7 linked regions of the Homo sapiens genome follow. The protein of the gene in region 7 interacts with the protein of the main gene of each other region in a pairwise test. Each region holds a gene or a part of one and is shown on either strand. Other genes may lie near its edges. The genes, in order: HORMAD1, DYNC2LI1, KRTAP9-3, MYG1, LMO3, SLC38A2 and DCDC2.

Region 1 (3,168 bases), on a different chromosome or scaffold from region 7:
TCTGAGAATTTCAGAGCTAGATAGAATCTTATGCAGTTATTTATTCCACCCTGCTTTGTATTTATAAGTGGAATATATAATACATTTGTGTTGCCTTGGAGCATACATGTTTTATTCTGCTTTTCAAATACAGTAAAATCCTGAAATAAGAGATTTAGGTAATATGAACTTGGAAAAAATATGATTGATGATTGATTGTCTGTCTTCCTCTGCCCAGCCCATTTCTCAAATAAGTAGACTAAATTTCTTGTCTTCTGGAAGGGTGGTGCCTGGTGATCATTTGGTACTTTCTCAGTTCAGTGGTTGGCCAATTATGTAAAGTGTCAGTTTCACTATCTTTACTTTTGTGCTTTTTGAACAGTATGAACCAACTCAAAATTATTGGTTTTAACTTGACAAGACCCTAAATTTTATGTGGTTAAATTTTTGGACCCCATTTATTGTGTTATGAAAAGGTTTTATTATACTAAGTTATATTTTTTGTAATTATTTTCTTTTTTAGGTTGAGCAGTTAGTCAATAAAACATCTGAACTTGATATGTCTGAAAGCAAAACAAGAAGTGGAAAAGTCTTTCAGAATAAAATGGTAAATATCTCTTTAGGTTTGTTTTCCATTGTAACCTTGTAATTCTCCCCCATATGTGAGTTTATTTTAATATTTCGTTTATTAAACCAGTATTTACTAAGTACCTATTATGTGTCAGGTACTTTACTAGGTGCTTAGGATATAACCTGAATAACACATACTTCATGGTCTTAGCTGAAGTTTAGTAACTGGAAATAAACAAGCAATGATACAGAGCCATTATAGAAGTCTGAATAGGCTACATAGGCACAAAGAAAGGAATGGTTAATTTTACTGAAGGTATATTAAAGAGAGGGATCCGGGAAAGGTTTTGGGAAGAAGTGATACTATCATCCAGACTCCCAGAGAAATTTCCTAGAATGCCAGAATGTTCCCATGCTTGATCTTTTTTTCTTTTTAAATTTCATTTAATTTAAGTTCCAAGATACATGTGCAGGACGTGCAGGTTTGTTACATAGGTAAACGTGTGCCATAGTGATTTGCTGCACCTATCAATCTATTACCTAGGTATTAAGCCCCACATGCATTAGCTATTTATCCTAATGCTCTCCCTCCCTCCAACCCCCTGACAGGCCCCAGTGTGTATTGTTCCCCTCTTTGTGTCCATGTGTTCTCATTGTTTATCTACCACTTATAAGTGAGAACATGTGGTGTTTGGTTTTCTGTTCCTGTGTTAGTTTGCTGAGGATAATGGCTTCCAGCTCCATCCATGTCCCTGCAAAGGACATGATTTCATTTCTTTTTATGGCTGCTTATTTTCTTTATCCAGTCTATCACTGATGGGCATGTGGGTTGATTCTGTCTTTGCTATTGTGAATAGTGGTGCAGTGAACATACAGGTGCATGTATCTTTGTAATAGAATGATTTATATTCCTCTGGGTATATACCTAGTAATGGGATTACTGGGACAAATGGTATTTCTGGTTCTAGATCTTTGAAGAATCACCACACTGTCTTCCACAATGGTTGAACTAATTTACATTCCAACCAACAGTGTAAAAGTGTTCCTATTTCTCCATAGCCTCGTCAGCATCTGTTGTTTCTTAACTTTTAATAATCACCATTCTGACTGGCATGAGATGGTATCTCATTGTGGTTTTGATTTGCATTTCTCTAATGATCAGTGATGTTGAGTGTTTTTCATATGTTTGTTGGCCACATGAATGTCTTCTTTTGAGAAGTGTCTGTTCATGTCCTTTACCCACTTTTTAATGGGGTTGTTTATTTTTTCTTGTAAATTTGTTTAAGTTTCTTATAGATTCTGGATATTAGACCTTTGTCAGATGGATAGATTGCAGAAATTTTCTCCCATTCTGTAGGTTCTCTGTTCACTCTGAAAAATATGGAATGCTTCATGAATTTGCATGTCATCCTTGTGCAAGGGACATGCTAATCTTCTCTATATCGTTCTAATTTTAGCATATGTGCTGCTGAAGTGAGCACCATGCTCAGTCTTATAAATTGAGTATCTTGTTAATAAGACATTACAAAATAATCTTTTGTATATATCTTGTATAAAATGAATCTCATATTCTTAAGGGAAAAAAATCACTGCTTTATTTTAGCTTTTGGTATGAATTATACTAAATCAAAATTCATATTTGATTTTAGACCTTTAAGTTACTCTCAAAGGTTCATTGGGGTGAAGAAAAAGCATTCTGTAAAATATATAAAATATCTAAAGTTTAGGAAATAAATAGCTCACTCTGTTAGTGGTGTGCTAGAACATTTATTCCCAACTCCCCACTCAGAGATATCATGTTGGTAGCTTAAATTGGACATGTTGGTAGTATTCACAGCACAGAAATCAGCAAATGCCTCAAGGTTTGTTTCTCTCCTAGAGCTGGTTATTAAACATTTATTGGAACACTACTCATTATAGTGCCATTTTTAAGTGTCTTCCCCCACCCCTATTCTCAATGGGAAGTTAGAACTGGCAGAAGGCAGCATTCAAATGAGTATCTCATGAAAGCAAGAGATAAAGGAATGTCAAGATTTACTACTTCTAGAAGCAAAATGTTCATCCTAGCCAGTTTATATGTAGGATGAATAACCTTTACTAGGATATAGGGATAGAGACCAGCATTTTAAAAATTATTAAGCAAGATCTCCTTGTAATGTAACATTAAGATGATTTAGGGACATAAATTTATTTCTGAAATTGCACATGTTTTTGGATATGAACTCTGAGCAAGTGTACTCCTGATTTTGAGAATTATTACTGAATTGTGGTTAGAAAAGGGCAAGAAATGAAAATATTCATTATTATATATACTAAGGAAGTTATCATTGGAAAGCTCATTTCAAGCATCAGAAAAGAAGTATATCCTTTTAGAGAATAGTTGTATGACACCTAATCATTAGTCATTTTCCAATATTCATTTTAATAACTATATATACAGCATTATTCACAATAGCCGAAAGATGGGAAAAACCTAAATATACATCAACAGATGAATGGATTAAAAAATGTGGTATATTCATACAATTGAATATCAGCCATAAAAAAAATGAAGTGCCAATACATGCTACAACTTAGATGAACCTTGAAAACATGCTAATTAAAGGAAGTTACTCACAA
Region 2 (3,500 bases), on a different chromosome or scaffold from region 7:
AGTGAGAATAAATAGCTTCGTTTAACAAGGCTGCAGAGGAAGGGGTTCAGGGTAAGTCATATTTTAGTTAAGGCCAACATGTGGAGAGAATATTCTGAAAAGGCTGAGATATTGGGGAGTTTGCCAGTCATGGAGCTGAAGTCATAGAGTGGAAGGATTTTAGAGGAAGGGAAGACAGAAGGGGATTATTGGGCCAGATTAAGGGATGTTTACAGAGTTAGGAAATTCAGAGTTCCAGGGATAATGGGTCAGAGGAGAGGGCTGGACATCTGGGGCGATTGAGGCAATGGGAGGGAAGATGGGATTCATTTTGATGGTCTCTAAATGAACTTGTACTAGGTCAATGTTTCTTGAATTAGGAAACCCACAAGACTACAGCCACATGCTCAGGGGACCAGAGTGTACTAATGAATTTTTAAATTTTGGATTGTAATTTTAATGATAATCTAAAACTTGATTTCAGTTCCCAGATTAGTTTATGTTAATTTGGAATTGTTACCATATAGTGCTATACATTTATATGAAATAATAATAAAAGTGATTTAAGGCCAGGCGTGGTGGCTCAAGACTGTAATCCCAGCACTTTGGAAGGCTGAGGTGGGAAGATCACTTGAGGCCAGGAGTTCAAGACCAGCCTGACCAACATAGTGAAACCCCATCTCAACTAAAAAATACAAAAAGTTACCTGCACGTGGTGGTGCATACTGGTAATCCCAGCTACTCCGGAGGCTGAGGCCTAAGAATCACTTGAACCCAGAGGCAGAGGTTTCATGAGCCAAGATGGTGCCACTGCACTCCAGCCTATGCAACAGAGGGAGACTCTGTCTCAAAAAAAAAAACAAAAAAGGCGAGGGGGAGTGATTTAAATCAATGAATACTAGTGTACCATGAAAATTTGAGGAAATTGGCTAGATATTATTTAAAATTCCTTCCAATTCTTATTCTACTTTCTTGCAGAGTACATTACTTTTTGGGTAATGTAGCCCTTATTAATTTAGAACTTTTACAGCATACTACATATGATACAAGTTCATTGTAGGAAAATTAGAAAATCCTGATTTTCTTTTTCTTTTTTTTTTTTTGAGACAGAGTCTCGCTCTGTCGCCTAGGTTCGAGTGCAGTGGTGTGATCTCGGCTCACTGCAGCCTCTGCCTCCTGGGTTCACACCATTCTCCTGCCTCAGCCTCCCAAGTTGCTGGGACTGCAGGTGCCCACGACCACGCCTGGTAATTTTTTTGTATTTTTAGTAGAGTTGGGGTTTCGCCATGTTAGCCAGGATGGTCTTGATATCCTGACCTCGTGATCCACCCGCCTCGGCCTCCCAAAGTGCTGGGATTACAGGCGTGAGCCACCATGCCTGGCAGAAAATCCTGATTTTCTTAAAAACTTTAATTACCTTCAAATCCTTCAGCTAGAAATAATCATTATTAACATAGTGATGTCCCCCTACATTTGTGTGTTTGTTTCTGTCTATGTGTGTGTGTGTGTGTGTGTGTGTACTTCAAGGAAGCAGGAAAAGTATTTTTTAATTGAAAACAGAGACATGCTGATCTATTATGAATGTTTTACTATGTCAGTAAGTATATTTCTACATTGTCATTCATAATAGCTGTATATTATTCTATTATATGGTTTACCATAATTAATTTAGCCAGTAGGGGACATGTAGGTTGTTTTTAGTTTTTCAGTTTGATGTAACACTGGCCAATAAACATCCTTCAATAATATACATTTTTATATTGTACAATTCCAGTTATTTTTTAATATATCTCATTACAAAAAATTTACTCAATTTGATCGTATTCCAGATATAATCTGGAGTAATTATCTTTTTTGTCAAAAACTATAGGTTTTTTTAGTAAAAACAAAAACACATATAATAAGTGTTCTGTGTTTTTGGCAATCCAGAGTTTTCCAAATTATTTTCTTTAGAGCCTGAAGGTTTCCTCCAGTGGAGCTTGTCCTGCTGTTTCTCTTTTATCTGTTTCCTTGCAAGGGGTCTTTTCTTTAAAAAAAAAAAAAAAAAAAGGATTTTACTATTTTTTAAAAATGATATAAACCACTGAGCTAATCCCTGGCTAAGCTGTGAAGTTAAGTTGCCTGACTAGTGGTAGGAATTAGGCCAGAACTTGTATTTCCTTACTCCTAAAAAGAAACTTGGGGTTGGGCATGGTGGCTCACACCTGTAATCCCAGCACTTTGAGAGGCTGAGGTGGGCAGATTAGATGAGGCCAGGAGTTCAAGACCAGCCTAGCCAACATGGCAAAACCTTGTTTCTACTAAAAATACAAAAATTACCCAGGCATGGTGGTGTGCACCTGTAATCCCAGCTACTTGAGAGGGTGAGGCACGAGAATCACTTGAGCCCAGGAGGCAGAGGTTGCAGTGAGCCAAGATCATGCCACTGCACTCCAGCCTTGGCAACAGAGTGAGACTCTGTCTCAAAAATAAAATAAAATAAAATAAAAATAAACAGAAACTTGGAATAAGTACATCCTCTGGACTTAAAACAAATTACTCTAATGCAGTATCTGAATTGCTTACTTTGAACATATTTACAATGTGTCCTTTATTTGTATGTTACCTTTTTCTTTATTTCCACTTCAACAATTGGAATTAAAACATTTTAAAAGACACTAAGCATCGGCTTAACCAGTAATTAACATTGATGAGTAGAGAAAAAATTTAAGACAGCTGCCAAGTTGACCACTTAAGTGAGGTATGATTTGCTAGTATTTGTCATCTGTGGGACTTTATAATTATAATAATAGCAGTGTAGTTACACTGTGATGGAAAGTTGACAGTTAACTTTTTCCACTTATCAAACTTTAGAACAATTCCGAAAGTTTCTAGTTTTTAGTTTCCAGGTAATTTATCATTCAATTGATTAAAAATCTATTTTGGGCCACAATTACGAACAATAATACAATTTTTACATATGAGTGACATTAACGCAGTGTTCCTTCTTTTTTAATTTCCAGGGAAAGACTACTATTATTCTAAGGTGTCTTGACAGGTAAGTGTTATGTTAACCTTTAAACTATATTTATGCTTATTCTAGTTGTATAGGGCAAGTTAGCTCTAAAAGACATAAGGAAGGGGAACGATTTTGAGACCCAAACAAAATATTTAATTCTTAGCAAATCCTTAGTATAACCTTTAAGAGCGCCTTTAAATATAAAACTAACAATAAGCCAAAAATTATATGAGACTAATACTGGATTTCCCTATTTGAGGGAGAAATGTTACCATAATTACCCAACCTACAATAGTATTTACCTTCTTTTTGGCTATGCTACTCTGATATTTAAATTATTTTTGTTCTACCTAATCTACAATTATTTGAACATTCATTGTAAGCTTTAGTTGCTCAGGGGTACATTTTTGAAGCACAGTGTTGGTCCTCAAACTGGATATTTTATCATTTATTTTATATATTTCCTAACGTATACTGTAGAAGCAGGCCATCAGATTAAGATTTAGCAGTATGATTGGTAGAT
Region 3 (2,948 bases), on a different chromosome or scaffold from region 7:
CACAATAAATTCTCAAGCATTTTTTGATGCAGATGAATTGAATGAATGGCTGGTCAGAGGCTCAGACAAAAAGATCTCTGCATTCAGGGCAGCCATTAAATGCATATCATGCAGCCTTTGCTCACTGAGGTGTGGGGAACTACTTTGGGATTTTTTTGTGTGTGAACAAAAGTGTTATCTGCAAATATGTCAGATTATTCCTCTCATTGTTAAATAAACTCAAGTACATGTCTTGCTAGTGCTGACTTCCAGTGTCTTTTCTACTATATTGGGAGTTAAACGTAAGTGTCCTTGGGCAGAAAGAGAGGACCTCACCTTTGACCAGAGTCTGCCCTTTACTAGCTACATAACATCACACATTAAATTGTTCTCAGCTGAAAAAATGGAGTTAATAATACACGACCATCTGTTTTGAGAATCAAATTGGATAATACCTATGGTATGTGATATGTGTGTAAATCCCATATCAGGAATGCTTTCAAATAAAACAAAACACTATATGAGATGAAGATGGTTCAGAGTTTATTCAGAAACATATAGGTAAGAATCTCTGCTACCAGAGACATAACCCAAAGTTATCGTGAAAAGAAGAAAGAAGGATACAAGAACCATGAGAAGGATATTTAAAATGAAAATATAATTGCAAAGATGATTGATCAGTTGCAGAAACCTAAATTCCTTAGAAGCAAAGAATGAAGCTCTTGATTTTTGAGACAAAGCTGAGATCATGACTCCAAATTAAGAACAGACGAAGCTGGCACATGATCCACAAGGTGTAAGGAAAGAGGGAATGAGGATGAAGTATTCTGCCCTCCCTCAAGCAGATTCCCAAGATTTTAAACATGTAGAGAATTCATAAAAATTTGGGTGAGAGCATGGTGGCTGTCAGCAGCAAAGTAAATTAGTCCCTCAAAAGACAAGTCAGTTGAGCTGAAGGTTGTTGTGTGAGGATGGTAGTTCTCTTGGGAGTTGATTAGCAGCAAGAAGGCTGGCAGCAGCTGTACACACAGGTGGGCTGGAAACAAGTGGTCCTGCAGCAGGTGGTCTCACAGCAGGCTGGGCGGCAGCAGGGCTGGCAGCAGTTGGAGCCACAGCTCTGGTTTAGGCAACCAGGCAGACAAACACTTGTGGGGTGGTAGCAGGTTCTTCTGCAGTACACAGGTGCACAGGAGCTGCTCTGACCACAGCTGGACCCACAGCATGTGGGCTGGCAGCAGGGTGTGCTACAGCAGGAAGGCTGGCAGCAGCTGGTCACACAGATGGGCTGGCAGCAGGTGGTCCTACAGCAGGTGTTTTGACAGCAAGTTGGGTGGCAGCAAGGCTGGCAGCAGCTGGAAACACAGCAGGAGGGCTGACAGCAGGGTGTGCTGCTGCAGGTGGTCACAGTGGTGGGCTGCCAGCAGGTGGTCCTGCAGCAGGTAGGCTGACAGCAAGGGGAGCAACAGTGGGTCATGGTGTCAGGGATGGAGGGTGGGCTTCTGTTAAGAGGTGAGTTTCCCAAAATCTGATGACCCCTTGCAATCTGGACCTTTTATACACCTGGCCTCCAAAGTTTCCACCAATCAGCAGGACTTTTCCTTGTTGCTGTTTACATTGTTTTCCACAGTCCATTTGGGATTGTCAAAGGGGAAGTTGTTACTGAAATCTTATGAACCTTTTAAACTAAGGGTTTAATCTGTTTCTTAATTGTGAGTTACTCATAGAAAGTTTGTTTCAGATAAAAGGAAGCCCGTCTCATCATCAGCATCATTCCTGCTCTGACCATCATCTGGTCATGTGACAGTTCCTGTTGATCCGGGGGGCTCAGGAAGTTCTCTCTGGCCAGCCTCATGTTTGGCTGTATATAGACTTGGAAGTGTCTGTGGGGAGAAGCATGATGCTGATATATTTACAGTGACAAAATGAATCCATGCCTGGGCCCAAGACTATTCACCCACCAAATTCTGACTCAAGACTAACAGGCATCTCTTTGTGCCACCCACATCATCTGTGTCTTTCAGTTCTTTGAATGTCACTTGGGAAGACGGTGACTGCACAGTGTGTTCCATGCGACAGAGCAGATCGAGAACAGGTGGATGCAGAGAAATCTGCTGAGATTTAGACAGCATCAAGCAATGTATGCCCTAGGACGACCATTCATTCTGACTTGTCTGGGAGTGTGGGGATTTCCGGGATGAGAATGGAGGACTTTCTATCACGTAACTTCTTGAGATTCAGGCCAACCAGCATGTGCTCTGGCTCTAGCCCTAAACCTAGTTACTAGCAGTAACTAGAAGTAAGCGTTGAAATTCAGGCCAACCAGCATGTGCTGTGGCTCTAGCCCTAAACCTAGTTACTAGCAGTAACTAGAAGAAGAAGTAAGTAGAAGTAATTTCTTCTATTTCTTTTCAATGAAGGGATTAGATGAGTTGAGATGACACCTGATTCATCGTGGAGTTCTAACATGTTGAAAACATTGTCTAGGTATATCATTCACTTGAGAAGAATGCAAATTATTAATTTCCAACCTGATATAGTATTACATTGTAAATACATCTATGTCCCCATTACCAGGTTAGGAAATAGAAATTAATGCCATTCTCTCCCAATTATATCCGCTTACTCATTTCCAAACAGCTAATCACTCTATCAAGTTATAATCCAGTAGATGACTTTGGCTTTTTAAAATTTCCATGTGAATAAAAATTATAGTATTTGCTTCTCTGTTTCTTTGTTATAATCAAAAGGAATCGTTATCGCCTAGTCATTTTGGACTCTTCCCGTCAGCAGAGCAGCAGACAGAGAAAGGAGTTACTATTTGGTGAGGGGTAATTATCTTTAAGCCATATAGTGTAGCAGAATATATCTATAGCTCAGGATACTTAGTAAGTGTATTAACTTACCAGCACTGCCATAATAAATTACTGTAAACCAAGTGGCTTAAATTTATCTTTTCACAGTTCAGAAAT
Region 4 (2,491 bases), on a different chromosome or scaffold from region 7:
TCTCTGCTTGGAATGCTTTTTCTCTTTCACCCCTTGTCTATCTGGTGGACACCCACTAATTCATCTTTCAGAACTGACCTGAAGGCTCTCCTCTGAACCCTTTCCTCATCCCTTCCTTCCTTTCCCTTGTCTCGTCTAGTGAGAGTACTCAGGGGGTTGTGTTTGTCGGCCTCCGGCAGATGAATCTGAAAGCAAGGACAGTGTCTTGGTTTTTTATCCTTAATGTCTAATAAAACATAAAATGTGGCAGATAGGAAGCATTGAGTTAACCATTGAATGAATGCATGGAGACTCTAGCCAAGGTCCCTCACCTCAGCCCCACCTCCCTATGCTCCTCAGGTCTTTCACAGAGACCATGAGCTCCCTGTCCCCTGGGAAGCCGTGGCAGACCAAGCTGAGCAGTGCGGGACTCATCTATCTGCACTTCGGGCACAAGCTGCTGGCCCAGTTGCTGGGCACTAGTGAAGAGGACAGCATGGTGGGCACCCTCTATGACAAGGTGGGGACCTGAGGACAGAGATGCCCCCCACATGCATTTCCAGCAGGCCGCCTGGGAGCAGTGCTCACACAGCACTCAGCACTGGGCCTCGGGTCAGGGTTCCTGGCCTATAGCAGGCCCAACACTCATCCTCTCCCTCAGTCAGGCTCATCTCACAAGGGAATGGTGATACCTCCCCTGTCTACATCCTGGGGTGGTTGTGAGAAGTGGATGCTGTAATATATGGGGAAGGGCTTTGAAAACCATAAAGCAGCATGGCCCCGTCTTTTTATTGACACACACAAACAGCAATTGCTCAGCACCTTTGGGTAAACAGAGGGGAGGCTGCTTATGTGTGGAAGCAGATGGCTCAGAGGTTCTGGCTGCCCTGAAGGTTGAGGGGAGTGTATGTTAGGCACCACTGTAGTTCACTAGTGGCACATAAATTGGGAAGCTCAGCTGAGAAGAGTTTTATTATGAAACTGTCTTTGGATTCCACCAGTGTCCCCTGCAAGCAGCTTCCTGCTCTTAGGGAAAGAATATGGCTAGTGGCCCTGGCATGCAAGTCAGGTCGCACAGTACTGAGGACACTTACTTGTTTACAAGTCAAAGCCCAGGTTCAGTCAGCTGTATTTCTTGCAGGTAGGCTGTTGAATTCAGTTCTCAGTTTTTTTGTTGTTTTTTGTTTTGAGATGGAGTCTTGCTCTGTCGCCCAGGCTGGAGTGCAGTGGCGCAATCTTGGCTCACTGCAAGCTCCGCCTCCCGGGTTCACGCCATTCTCCTGCCTCAGCCTCCCGAGTAGCTGGGACTACAGGCGCCCATCACCATGCCCGGCTAATTTTTTGTATTTTTAGTAGAGGTGGGGTTTCACCGTGTTAGCCAGGATGGTCTTGATCTCCTGACCTCGTGATCTGCCCACCTCAGCCTCCCAAAGTGCTGGGATTACAGGTCTGAGCCACTGCACCCGGCCCATCAGTTCTCAGTTTTAGCTTGCCCATTTTCTGCCCTCTGTAACTATAGAGTTTTTGGAATATCAAGATTTTAGACTGCCTGGGTCAGTTTTCCCTTCCACTGCTGAAGGGTTTCTAAACAACTGACTAAATTTTTGTTGTTGTTTTTTTTTGTTTTTTTGAGACGGGGTCTTGCTCTGTCATCCAGGCTGGAGTGCAGTGGCACAATCTCAGCTCACTGCTACCTCCGCCTCCTGGGTTCAAGCGATTCTCCTGCCTCAGCCTCCCAAGTAGGTGAGATTACAGGCGCCTGCCACCACGCCTGGCTAATTTTTTATTTTTAGTAGAAACGGGGTTTCACCGTGTTAGCCAGGCTGGTCTCAAACTCCTGACCTCAAGTAACGCACCCACCTTGGCCTCCCAAAGTGCTGGGATTACAGGCGTGAGCCACTAATCCCAGCAACAATTGACTAAATTTAACCCGTATTTTTTTTTGAGAGACTGTTGCCCAGGTTGGAGTCCAGTGGTGCCATCATGGCTTGCTGCTGCTTTGAACTCCTGGGCTCAAGCAGTCTTCCCACCTCAGCCCCCCAAGTAGCTGAGACTACAGGTGCATGCCACCATGCCTGGCTAATTATATATCTTAATTTTTTTGTAGAGAGGGTCTTGCTATGCTGCCCAGGCTGGACTCAAAAACTCCTGGGCTCAAGTGATCCTCCCACCTCAGCCTAAACCCATGTTTTTTTTTTTTTTTTTTTTTTTTTGAGACGGAGTCTCGCTCTGTCGCCCAGGCTGGAGTGCAGTGGCGGGATCTCGGCTCACTGCAAGCTGCGCCTCCCAGGTTCACGCCATTGTCCTGCCTCAGCCTCCCAAGTAGCTGGGACTACAGGCGCCCGCCACTACGCCCGGCTAATTTTTTGTATTTTTAGTAGAGACGGGGTTTCACCGTTTTAGCCGGGATGGTCTCGATCTCCTGACCTCGTGATCCGCCCGCCTCGGCCTCCCAAAGTGCTGGGATTACAGGCGTGAGCCACCGCGCCCGGCCTAAACCCATGTTTTAACT
Region 5 (3,500 bases), on a different chromosome or scaffold from region 7:
TTGATAGATCCTACTTTATTAATATAAGTAATTTGCAGCTGAAGTAAGTCACAAAGTTGCCTGAAAAGCAAAATAATTTTCCTTCAGCAGAAATTCTGTGTTGAGTACTTAATGCTGGAAAACAAGCTTTAGTAGGCTTCATAGCTCCATAACCAAGAACACCTGCCTTGTCCTGAAAGCATTCAGATGTTTACAGGTTGGAGAGTGGCTGTCATTTTCCTATAATGATGGAGGTCTTTACTTTGTTATTATCCATAAAACTACTGGCAAGTCTGAGGCGGTTCAATTGCTTAGTTGTATTTTTGAGATTCCCGTTTAGAATGTCATGAGGTGGGGCGAGAGGAAGATGTATCTACACTTGGGGAAAGTTTTCAAAACTCTACAATAAATGCACTAATAGATATTAACCAAGGATTTGCACCTGACTTCCTCTGACACACCTGAAACAGAGAAGACAGCTGAATAACTTTAGAAGACTAAATTCAGGTCCAACTTAGAGGCAACAATTAAACTCTTTTACACAGTCCATTTTTTTCAAGTTGAACTTTTTAAAAATAGTTAAGATATTTTGCCAAATGGCTGATCAATTTCTTTGTGTTATGCTCAACCCCCATTCCCCCTTAAGCTCCAAAAAAAAAAAAAAAAAAAAAAAAGAAAAAAAAGAAAAAATAAGTAAATCAACCTGAATGCTGATTTCGACCAAATACATCCTTGACATTAACTGGCAGTTTCAACATAGGCAGCGCCATAACCAACTGCCTGAGTGTGCAGGCAAGCCAAATTGAAATACTTTAAATATTGTGGTTTGTTGGCTATTCCTTAAGCATTAATTTGAGTAACACACACAGGGCAACGCTTTGAAGGCTGACAGGTAACTTCTTTCAGGAATATAAGCTGGCAGTAAGGAAATGAAACAAGCAAACAAAAAATACACTTACAAAAGTACTTTAAAAGGCATCCAGTCATCACTGGTGTGCAAGGATAATTCCTACCTCAGATAGTCTCTGCGACAAAGGATAAGATTAGCTTTAGTGTACAGGGTGGAGCCCACCTCTCCCAAGCGACAGTCACAGCAGGCACACTTCAGGCAGTCTTCATGCCAGTATTTGTCCAGTGCCTTTAGAAGATACCGGTCCTTGATCTTTCGGTTGCAGCCAGCACAACCTTTCGGCTTGGTGTCTGGCTGGACTGAGAGCATTTGTATACCTAAAGGAAGACAAAAGCAAAAAAGAGAGCTGAGACTACCAGACAGAATAAAAAGACCTCAAACAAGTTAAATATTTAATATTTCCTTATTCTAGGAGTGTTAGCTTTTCTTGTTTAGGGCTATACTGAAATCAAACCCAATTTTGGAAACAAAAAGTCTCAAACTTTATCAAGTGCTTATTAAATCATTCAAAAAGTTACACATGCCAAGTGACAATAATAATAAATTCATGTTGACCATGGTAAATTGACATTATAAATATGAAGTTCAATAACATTAAATAATTTTATAGTATCTTCATTCTCCCCATAGAGCAGTTCCTTTAGAAAGAAAATGTGAGTAAATAACAATCTGAAAAGAAAGCTATTTAACAAATTAATCTATGCACAGTCCCTACAAGTAAAAAAATGAGTTTTGCTTAACTGTTTAAAAATTTCACTTAATATGTGCTTGATGGTGGAAGGAGAGGGCACCTGGTATGGGGTTACACTAACCTTATTCAGCAGTAGAGGTGTTTATAGTTAAGTACACAGAACAGCTACCCAAAAAGCTCACCAATCCTATATTTCTTGCTTGCATCCAAATACTTCTTCTATGTCCTTGATATTTCAAAGTATTCATTGTGTTCAAATATAACATTTATACTCACAAGCATCAGTCAGCACCTATATTAATGGCAGATTACTTAACTATATACTATATGCTTTTATGTAAACCTAAAGTATATGATTATACCATTTATTACCATAAACATGCAATTATTTGTTTTATAAAGGAAAGAAAAAACAATAGAAGGCAAGATCTAAATATATATACAATTATACAAACATATATAAGTAAATATATACATGTTATATGTATACTATGCTAAACATAGAAACATTTATATATTTTAAAGGTATAAATCCATCATAAATAAGGAATCCAGCTGGATTCCATGGGCTTTACAGTTTGATTGAAATCTTTTGAATGAATGGACATTCACCTTGAGTGTCTTCTTATTTCCTAGGTATTAAAACACCCAGCTTTAGCAAGAAGCTGGACCAACTATCCAATGCCTCATATTTATCAAATAACTCATTTTAAGCACTATAAAGTACTGCAGACATCATCAATTCCAAATTCCCTCATTTTACAAATTATGTTACCGAGGCCCAAGAGAGGTTCAGAGACTTGCTCAAAGCTGAAAGACAGTTACGCTATAGACTCCAGCCAAATGGCCTTCTTACAGTCCAGAGACCCTTCTGCTGCATTATGTTTGCTCTCCTAGGCATAAAGTTTTAAACTTGCATGTAGAAGGATACAAAACACCAAATGTGCATGCATTATAGGATAAGAAATGTCAAGCTATAATCTGCACTTTTGTACATTTTCCTTCTCCAAAACAGCTAAACCTCCTCCAGTTTCCTCTGATATCTTATGATGAAGGCTTCACCCCCATCACAACTTTCACAACCTTTTAAAAAAAAAATCCCACTGGTAAGAGACATCAAGGCATCCGCAGAGCGGAATAACTTTTCTAACTACAAATAATACATGAGTTGCACAAAATATTGTTAGGATGTTGAACTTTCATTAGAAAATAACTCGTCTGGTAGAGTTGTGTAGGGAATGGCAGGAAATAAAGCAGAGTAGCTGTTCTTTCTTTCTGCATCATAAGCATAGCTGTAGTCACCGGAGCTGCAGACTAACAGCTGGATTTGTAAGAAGAGCAGGTGGTATCCCTATAGCCTGCTTTCTGTTCCTTTCCTTTGAAGGAGCTAAGGGCCTAGTGTAGATTAATCATAACCCTTGATAGCTCTGCTAAATCTCACTCTCTAGAACTTCTAACAAATGAAGTTTCTTTGATCAGAACTAGTTATCCTCTTCTAGCAAGGTTCCACAAGGAGTGAATCCCATTAATTACAGTGAACAACAGATCCAAGTGCCTGTTAACCACATATCTAGGGGGAAGGGGAAGTTTTGATTTACTCAGTGAAATTCTGGATGGTGTTACTGAAAACACCTAGATAATAAATATTAAGAGAAGCCATTCTAATTAAGCCATCCTAATTAACGGCCATTCTATTAAATTTGTAAGGCTATTATTTTTATTTATCACAAAGCTCAAAGATGAAAAATCGAAAAAAAAAAAAATCCCAGTAGCAGCTAAGTTATATTTCCCACAGTTGTGTTTCTACCATCAAGCATAGAAGGTCAGCTGTTTTATTCAAAATGCTTTGCAACCAAGACAGGGGATACCAACATTTGGCACAAGTAACACTACCCTACTTGTCTTCACAAAATGTTTTTG
Region 6 (3,500 bases), on a different chromosome or scaffold from region 7:
GCACTGAAGTCTAAACACAAAATTCACTTATGTTTCCTATACACCTTCTTAAACCCATAGCCTAAAGGTGATTTTATACAGTATTTTAATTAATTTTGCACACCTGTCACGAGATCAGGTGTGGATTTTCCACTTGTAGTGTCATGTTGGCACTCAAAAAGTTTTGGATTTCAGATTAGGGATGTCCAGCCTGTATTTTGCATTGAACAGATTAAGTCTTAAGAATTCCAAACTTACAAAAATAAGACGGATTAATTTTTAATGTAATTCAAAGCTTCAGTCCTCACTTAGGATATATATTAAAAACACCTATAACTTCTTTAAGTATGAACATAAAGACAGAAAGCAAGTTCTAGAAAACCTGTTTTAGAAATTAAGATATCCAAAATTGTAGGGCTAGCTACTATCTTTCGGCCTTTCCTTCTCCAAAGTTCGAATCAGTTTACGGGGATGGGGGGCCTTCTTGGTCAGTTTCAAAAGGAACATTTATGGATAATTAACTAATCATTTTGTATACAACTTTGATAAAAATGTATCTAACCACTTTTGACTATAATTGTTTCTTATGAGTAACCTTACTTAGCACCTACCCAGTTTTATCTTCAATGTTCGTTAATGCCTGGATCACCAAAGGCAACTCATATTTCACTATGAAGAGGTAGCTTGACATAGCTGGAGGAAAACAAAATTATACCATTACAAGTGCAAAACGCGGCACGTGACACTAAAACGCATGTGTCACCATTCTGTGCTCCACAATGAGCATAAAGTCTACCCAAATAATCTTTTGAAAAATTCTTACCTCCAATGTTCTGCATTGTAATTGATCCAGATGCTGCAAGCTTTCCAACTAATCCAAATGCCTTATATCCCAATTGTTCATATAATAAAGACCCTACAATTTGAAGACAGAAGCATGAAGCCAAGGATTTTAAAAGAGAAATAAAATGATAGGTATACATTGTTTTAGAAAAATCAAGAATGCTATCATACCTCCTTCATTGGCAGTCTTCAAAAGGAGATGAACAGAATACAGGGAAAATATTGACACAAATGTCAAGAGAATTCTGGTGAGAGAAGGAAAAGGCATAGGGTTATAAATAAGCATGGCTATATTTAAAGACAACTCTTTCTGGATGTTTAAATAACATTATGTGTGCAACTTGTCCTATTTGTGTCAAAATGCCCTGAAGAACTGGCATTTCCTCTCCTACTAACTGGAATGGCAACACTGTCTCTTGGCTGGCAGTAAAAACTTGCATCATTTCTCAGGTGATAGTTCTACAGCATTGGTTAGGAACAAGGATGTCTACCCACTGAGCCAAACATAGCATGAGACACTGGAAAGCTCAACTTCCCAGTGATGGAGTTTGAAACTTGTATTTTGATTCTGGCACCACAATAATGAGCTGTATGCTTGCCACCTTTCTGCATTTCAGTAGTTCCCCTTATCTGTAAAATATTAGTAATATCCGCCACTAAACCCAGCCCACAAGGTTCTTGGGAAATTCAACTGAGACACGTTCAGGAAAGGTTTTAAGACCACATGGACCGTATACACAAAAACAGGAATGACAGGCCAGGTGCAGTGGCTCATGCCTGTAATCCCAGCACTCTAGGAGGCTGGGGCAGGATGACTGCTTGAGGCCAGGAGTTCGAGATCAGCTTGGACAACATAACATAGGGAAGCCACATCTCTACCGAAGGAAAAACAAAAAGCCAGCTGTGGTGGTGTACACCTATAGTCTCAGCTACTCAGGCTGAGGTGGGGGTATCACTTGAGCCCAGCAGTTTGCCACTGCACTCAGCCTGGAGGACAAAATGAAATACTGTCTTTTTAAAAAAAAAAGAAAGAAAAGGAAAAGAATGGTAAGGGGGAAATGACACTAACATGATACTAACATTTTAAGAGGCACTACAAGCTTTACTAACAACTGGGCACAAATCAGAGAACTAACCATTGTGATGACATACTACATTGCACCCCATGGCAAGGAATACAGGCCCACTATTGTCACAGTTAAACAATGTCTGTGCTAGAACAAGTAGGCTATCAGCTTGACTGTCTCTAAGCCTTTCCTCCCTTGACCCTTTCACTTGGATTGAGCAACAGAAAAAAAATAAATAAATAAGGTAACATAGAGTGACTAAAGGGACCCTAATGTCACCTAATTTTCCTTTAGGGTAAGGGTTCTCCCTCATTCCAGCTTTACTTTCCTTCCACCTAGGAGAGCCCAGAGATACAGACTAATTTTTTAAAGAAATTAAATAACAAAACAGGGAAACTCATAGAAAACCTTGCAAAGGAGAAGAGTTACATGTTTTTTAATTCCGTATGAACAAACTGCACGCAGTACCATGTAAGGTGCTGACAAAGAAACTGATGTCTATTAGTTAAACAGAGGAAGTGGCTTTACACTACCATTCTAAATGCCAGAAGTTTTACAGGACCTAGTCTGAAGTGACACTATCAACCTCACTTCTAACTGGAGAAAATATGTTGGTTTAATTAAAAACAAACCAAATTAAGTCCTTCCATGTCTTATACTGAAATGACAAGGGATGAATAGACTTTATAACCTTTGAGGTCACTTTCAACCTTCAGATTGATTCTACTTAAACAGGTTAGCTACAGGGTTGCTGAAGTGCACCGTGGCAGCCATGTGGTTTTTGGCCCATTTTCCTCTATACCTCTAAATATAAAGTAAGTACTGATGAATAAAATCACACTTTAGCAATCTTATTTAGCCATTAAGCAAAATGGTAAATCAATGACATAAGCACCTATTAAAGTATAATTCCAAGAGTACAAGGGTTACATCAGAATTTGACCTTCACTTATGAAACAGAGGTGCCATTTAGTATCATTTCAATTCTTACTTTAACTACACTGGCTGCACTCTAAAACTGCCTCCAGTTTTTATACCAAGTGCTAACAAGGATTTCAAATATTCGACAGTGATGCCATTCAGGTTCTCCACTAAGAACTCCTGAGATTCTAGGATTCTACGTAAATCGCTGGTCCTTCACCTTAGTAAGAGTTCTCTCAAAAAGCCTCATCCTAATTGAAGCAAGCCAGAGTGAATCCTAGCATCTAGTACTCAAAGCCAGGCTTAACCTCAGTGTGGAATTTCACAAAGCAGAGATTTGCAAAGGTCTGCTTTTCTTTTCATGAACATTCTATCGTGCTGGAGAAAATAACTTGAGTAGAAGGCACCAATCAGCTAAGTAAAACACATCTGTCACAAAGGGACAATTCCATGCTATATACATATGGTTTCCTTATCTGTACAATGAAGGTATTAAGTTACACAATCCTCCACAGAAATTGCCTTAGCCAGGGGTCCACGGGTACTTAAACTTAAGGGCTATGACACAAACATCACTGAAAAATACATGCTTAAGATTGCATGTATTTTTGTTTTGTGCTTTTTCCCTGGAAATAAGATCCACATTTTTCTATCATATTCTCCAAGAGTCAGTGACGCAAAAATGGCTAA
Region 7 (3,500 bases):
GGCAGCAAGAGGAAAGGAGTAAGTGGGAGGGAGTCACCAGTAGGAAGCAGGATGAAAGAGATGCAGTCTTTCATTTGGAGACAAGGGGTAGGTTTTTCACACGTAAGGTGTGCATCCATAAATAAGGATCTTGTACGTTGGCTCATGTGTAAGTGCAAAATAAAGAGAAACAATGGTTACTGTCCCCAGAGTGGAAGAACAATAAGCAAATTAAATGAACTGGAGTTTCTGTGAATGCTTCTGTTATTAAAAATACTATTTTAAGGCCGGGCTTGGTGGCTCATGCCAGTAATCCCAGCACTTTGGGAGGCCAAGGCGGGCGGATCATGAGGTCAGGAGTTCAAGACCAGCCTGACCAACATGCTGAAACCCCGTCTCTACGAAAAACAAAAAAATTAGCCAGGTGTGGTGGCACGTGCCTGTAATCCCAGCTACTCAGGAGGCTGAGGCAGGAGAATCGCTTGAACCCAGGAGGTGGAGGTTGCAGTGAGCAGAGATCGAGCCACCGCACTCCAGCCTGGGTGACAGAAGGAGACTCTGTCTCAAAAAAAAATTTTTAAGAAAAAAGTATATTCGATAAATCTATTGCACACCTGTTGTCTTTTACTAGGGATAATGTCTTCAGCAAAGACACTGGAATCCAGAGTAAATATACTGTGCTCACATTTTTTGGGAATTCACACATCTCAAATTCTATTGCGGAAGTCCAGGTTTCTTCACCAATTTCATGCAAGGTAGTATACTTTAAACAGGTGTGTATCCTTTCATCAGAATCACATCCAGAACAAATTCACAACACTGCCCTTTATTACTACTCTACTTGAGACAGATATCAACTGGTGGTCATTCTTTAGCTATATCATAAGCACAACCTGAAAATTGTATACCTTTGTCTACTTTAAGCTACAAAGCCTATCACTTTCATGACTAATCAATTTGATGCACTGAAAATACAAGCCAAAATATTAATTATGTTAAATGATGTCTAGGAAGGGTACCTCTTTCTACAGATTATTTGAATAATGAATTTAACCTCATATTCTTCAAATACTGTACAATTAGAATTTTTTTCTTACGCAATATTTTTTCTAGAGGGGCCTATTTGGTCCTATTAGGCACAAACATGATGTGAGAGGAAATGGTGAGTGTTGAGGAGAGTCCCTCTGGGGCTCTGGACTACAAGTGAGAAAAACTACTTTTCCTGTTGGCCATTTCTTCATTGGCAGCACTTACCCATTGGAAGCACTTGTTTATTTGGGGTCTGAATGGGAAGAGTGGCTGTCTGGGCTGGTGAACAGAGGCCTATTCTGGATCTAACTACAATTTTCCCTGTCTCAGGCTGTGGCCCCAACTTTGTTTTTAATCTATTTTTTCATTCACAAACTAAAGAATACATCCTACAGAATACCTAAAACTCCACCAGGGTTTCAGAAGCTACGTGGAATGCGGTATTGTGAATATTTCACAAGCTCCTTTTCCAACCTTCACATAAGCTTTCACGAACTATGCTTAACTCGTACTTCGATAGAAGCTAAAACACAGGTGTTTTCCTGACATCACAAAGTGTCCAACGTGACATCTACTCATCTCCTTTGAAAGCCTCAGGGGCAGTTAGGGTGACCCTGGCTACATCAAACACTGAGTTATCAGAGGCACATTAGGATGAGGATGTAGCTTTGGTAAAGATTTATTTAACAACGCTCAGAATCTTCTCACTTGACAGGGAACCTTCCCATGGATTTCAATCAGAGAACATGTAGCTAGAAAAGAGAAAAATATGTTTTGTCTAATCTTGACATATCCTGCACATCTTAGAACATCTACTCAGTCTTTTCATTTCTGACAATGATTCAAAGAAAGAATTATCTTTGCCTTAAAACATATAATGTTCCATTTCTTTACATTAGAGAACTCATCAAAGTAGAATGCCGTCCAAATCTCTAAGACACACCATAAGAAACAAATGGCACCGTTATTTATTTGAATTTTCAAAATAATATTTGCATTACCTCTGTATTAACAACTTCCATTGGTCTTTTCTTGATTTCTCCTATGTCCAAGTAACTGAGGAAAAAACAAACAAACAATAAGAGTTGCTTTTATAGACTTTAAGTCAGTAATTTATTTTTAAAAATCATAAAAAAATAAAGCAACTCATAGGAAATTCTCAACCTTAAAGCAAAAACAAATAGCTACTAATGAAAAGCAATTACAATAGTAAAAACTGTTTGCAGTGTCACCAACCAGAGCTGACATATGTCTACCCTAAACTTCAAGAGAAGGAAAGTCTTAGAAATACATACATCTATTAGAGAACATTTTTCCCTCTTAATAGTTAGCTGCTTACTATATACACTATATTCTTACAGATTTGATTTTTTAAAAGAGTGGCTTATGTGCAAAGCTGCTTAACTGTTCCATTAAATACAGGCTTTAGGTCAAAGGAAGTACTGATAGCGTGCATTAGGGTAACAACTGGGAAAGGCTGAGAAATTATTGTCTCTATGAGAGCACCTTAATGATACAAAAACACTCACTCATGTGGGATGACTTTGGTAATTGGTTCAGCTAAGAAACAGATGGGTGGACTAGTTAACCTCTGGAGACCCCTATTATTCCATTACTATTTGCTCTAGATACTAACAGTGATCATTCTTTAGCTGTTACATAAGCACAACCTGAAAACTGTATACCTTTGTCAACTTCACGTGTAATATCACTGTGATGTGGTTCCAGTTTTAAATGGTCCCTAAACTGTGCTTCATACATAAAATGTGCTAAATAAACATTTTAATATTAAAAAGTATAAATCTAACATATAATTTATAATGATAGATCAATCCTTTACCCCAACTACTACAATTGCCAACTTGTCCCAAAAAAAGCTTATGTTAGAATTAATTTTGGCTATTGAAATGTTTTTATTGTTGCTGTTTGCCTTTTTGGATAAAATACTTTAGTTAATTCATATCTCTGGAAATTGTCATACAATGCCCCTATATAAAAGTAGTCATATTTTTAAAACAGTGCAAACACTCCGTCTTAGCAATAAAATGGGTCTTTTGTGGACCTGCAGGGGCTGAGTTTTGAAATAATACCAAAATATTCTGTCATGTGCAGGAAAGTGGTTTCAGATCCACAAGATTAATGCTGCAGAGTCAACTTCCAACAATGCACAGGGAAAGTTTTGGGGGAAATACTCTCTAGAATCCTCTGCTGTAAAATAAAGGTTGTGAATGTATGGTCTCACATTTGAAATAAATAAGGGTTTAATAGCTACCTGATGTTTAGTTATCGTTTCAAAAATATTAGAAAAATCTAAGTGAAAGCAATTCAAGCAGCGATTTGATCAGTTCCATTTGAAAAAGATGTTGCTGTCTTTCCCAACATTTAGGGTCTAAATGAAAGCCCACGAATTGTCCTCAATATCGTTTGGGCTTTCTTTTGTTCTGACAGTTTCTCCATTCTTTACATAAACTTATAAGTGCTAAGTTTCAAAT

The links.
Region 1: the proteins of DCDC2 (region 7) and HORMAD1 interact in binary tests that used the Homo sapiens proteins (3 or more experiments, as listed by UniProt).
Region 2: the proteins of DCDC2 (region 7) and DYNC2LI1 interact in binary tests that used the Homo sapiens proteins (3 or more experiments, as listed by UniProt).
Region 3: the proteins of DCDC2 (region 7) and KRTAP9-3 interact in binary tests that used the Homo sapiens proteins (3 or more experiments, as listed by UniProt).
Region 4: the proteins of DCDC2 (region 7) and MYG1 interact in binary tests that used the Homo sapiens proteins (3 or more experiments, as listed by UniProt).
Region 5: the proteins of DCDC2 (region 7) and LMO3 interact in binary tests that used the Homo sapiens proteins (3 or more experiments, as listed by UniProt).
Region 6: the proteins of DCDC2 (region 7) and SLC38A2 interact in binary tests that used the Homo sapiens proteins (3 or more experiments, as listed by UniProt).

Annotation. Positions count from the first base shown.
Region 1 is NC_000001.11:150,700,728-150,703,895, reverse strand, and holds part of HORMAD1 (HORMA domain-containing protein 1), read left to right. Parts: intron 1-502; coding exon 503-586; intron 587-3,168. UniProt on the Homo sapiens protein: Plays a key role in meiotic progression.
Region 2 is NC_000002.12:43,780,539-43,784,038, forward strand, and holds part of DYNC2LI1 (cytoplasmic dynein 2 light intermediate chain 1), read left to right. Parts: intron 1-2,981; coding exon 2,982-3,016; intron 3,017-3,500. UniProt on the Homo sapiens protein: Acts as one of several non-catalytic accessory components of the cytoplasmic dynein 2 complex (dynein-2 complex), a motor protein complex that drives the movement of cargos along microtubules within cilia and flagella in concert with the intraflagellar transport (IFT) system, facilitating the assembly of these organelles.
Region 3 is NC_000017.11:41,231,007-41,233,954, reverse strand, and holds KRTAP9-3 (keratin-associated protein 9-3), read right to left. Parts: upstream 1,507-2,948; 5' UTR 1,454-1,506; coding exon 974-1,453; 3' UTR 501-973; downstream 1-500. UniProt on the Homo sapiens protein: In the hair cortex, hair keratin intermediate filaments are embedded in an interfilamentous matrix, consisting of hair keratin-associated proteins (KRTAP), which are essential for the formation of a rigid and resistant hair shaft through their extensive disulfide bond cross-linking with abundant cysteine residues of hair keratins.
Region 4 is NC_000012.12:53,302,695-53,305,185, forward strand, and holds part of MYG1 (MYG1 exonuclease precursor), read left to right. Parts: intron 1-339; coding exon 340-499; intron 500-2,491. UniProt on the Homo sapiens protein: 3'-5' RNA exonuclease which cleaves in situ on specific transcripts in both nucleus and mitochondrion. Involved in regulating spatially segregated organellar RNA processing, acts as a coordinator of nucleo-mitochondrial crosstalk.
Region 5 is NC_000012.12:16,599,663-16,603,162, forward strand, and holds part of LMO3 (LIM domain only protein 3), read right to left. Parts: intron 1,207-3,500; coding exon of another isoform or gene 1,199-1,206; coding exon 993-1,198; intron 1-992.
Region 6 is NC_000012.12:46,366,274-46,369,773, forward strand, and holds part of SLC38A2 (sodium-coupled neutral amino acid symporter 2), read right to left. Parts: intron 1,068-3,500; coding exon 994-1,067; intron 896-993; coding exon 803-895; intron 673-802; coding exon 591-672; intron 1-590. UniProt on the Homo sapiens protein: Symporter that cotransports neutral amino acids and sodium ions from the extracellular to the intracellular side of the cell membrane.
Region 7 is NC_000006.12:24,351,560-24,355,059, forward strand, and holds part of DCDC2 (doublecortin domain-containing protein 2), read right to left. Parts: intron 2,065-3,500; coding exon 2,010-2,064; intron 1-2,009. UniProt on the Homo sapiens protein: Protein that plays a role in the inhibition of canonical Wnt signaling pathway. May be involved in neuronal migration during development of the cerebral neocortex. Involved in the control of ciliogenesis and ciliary length.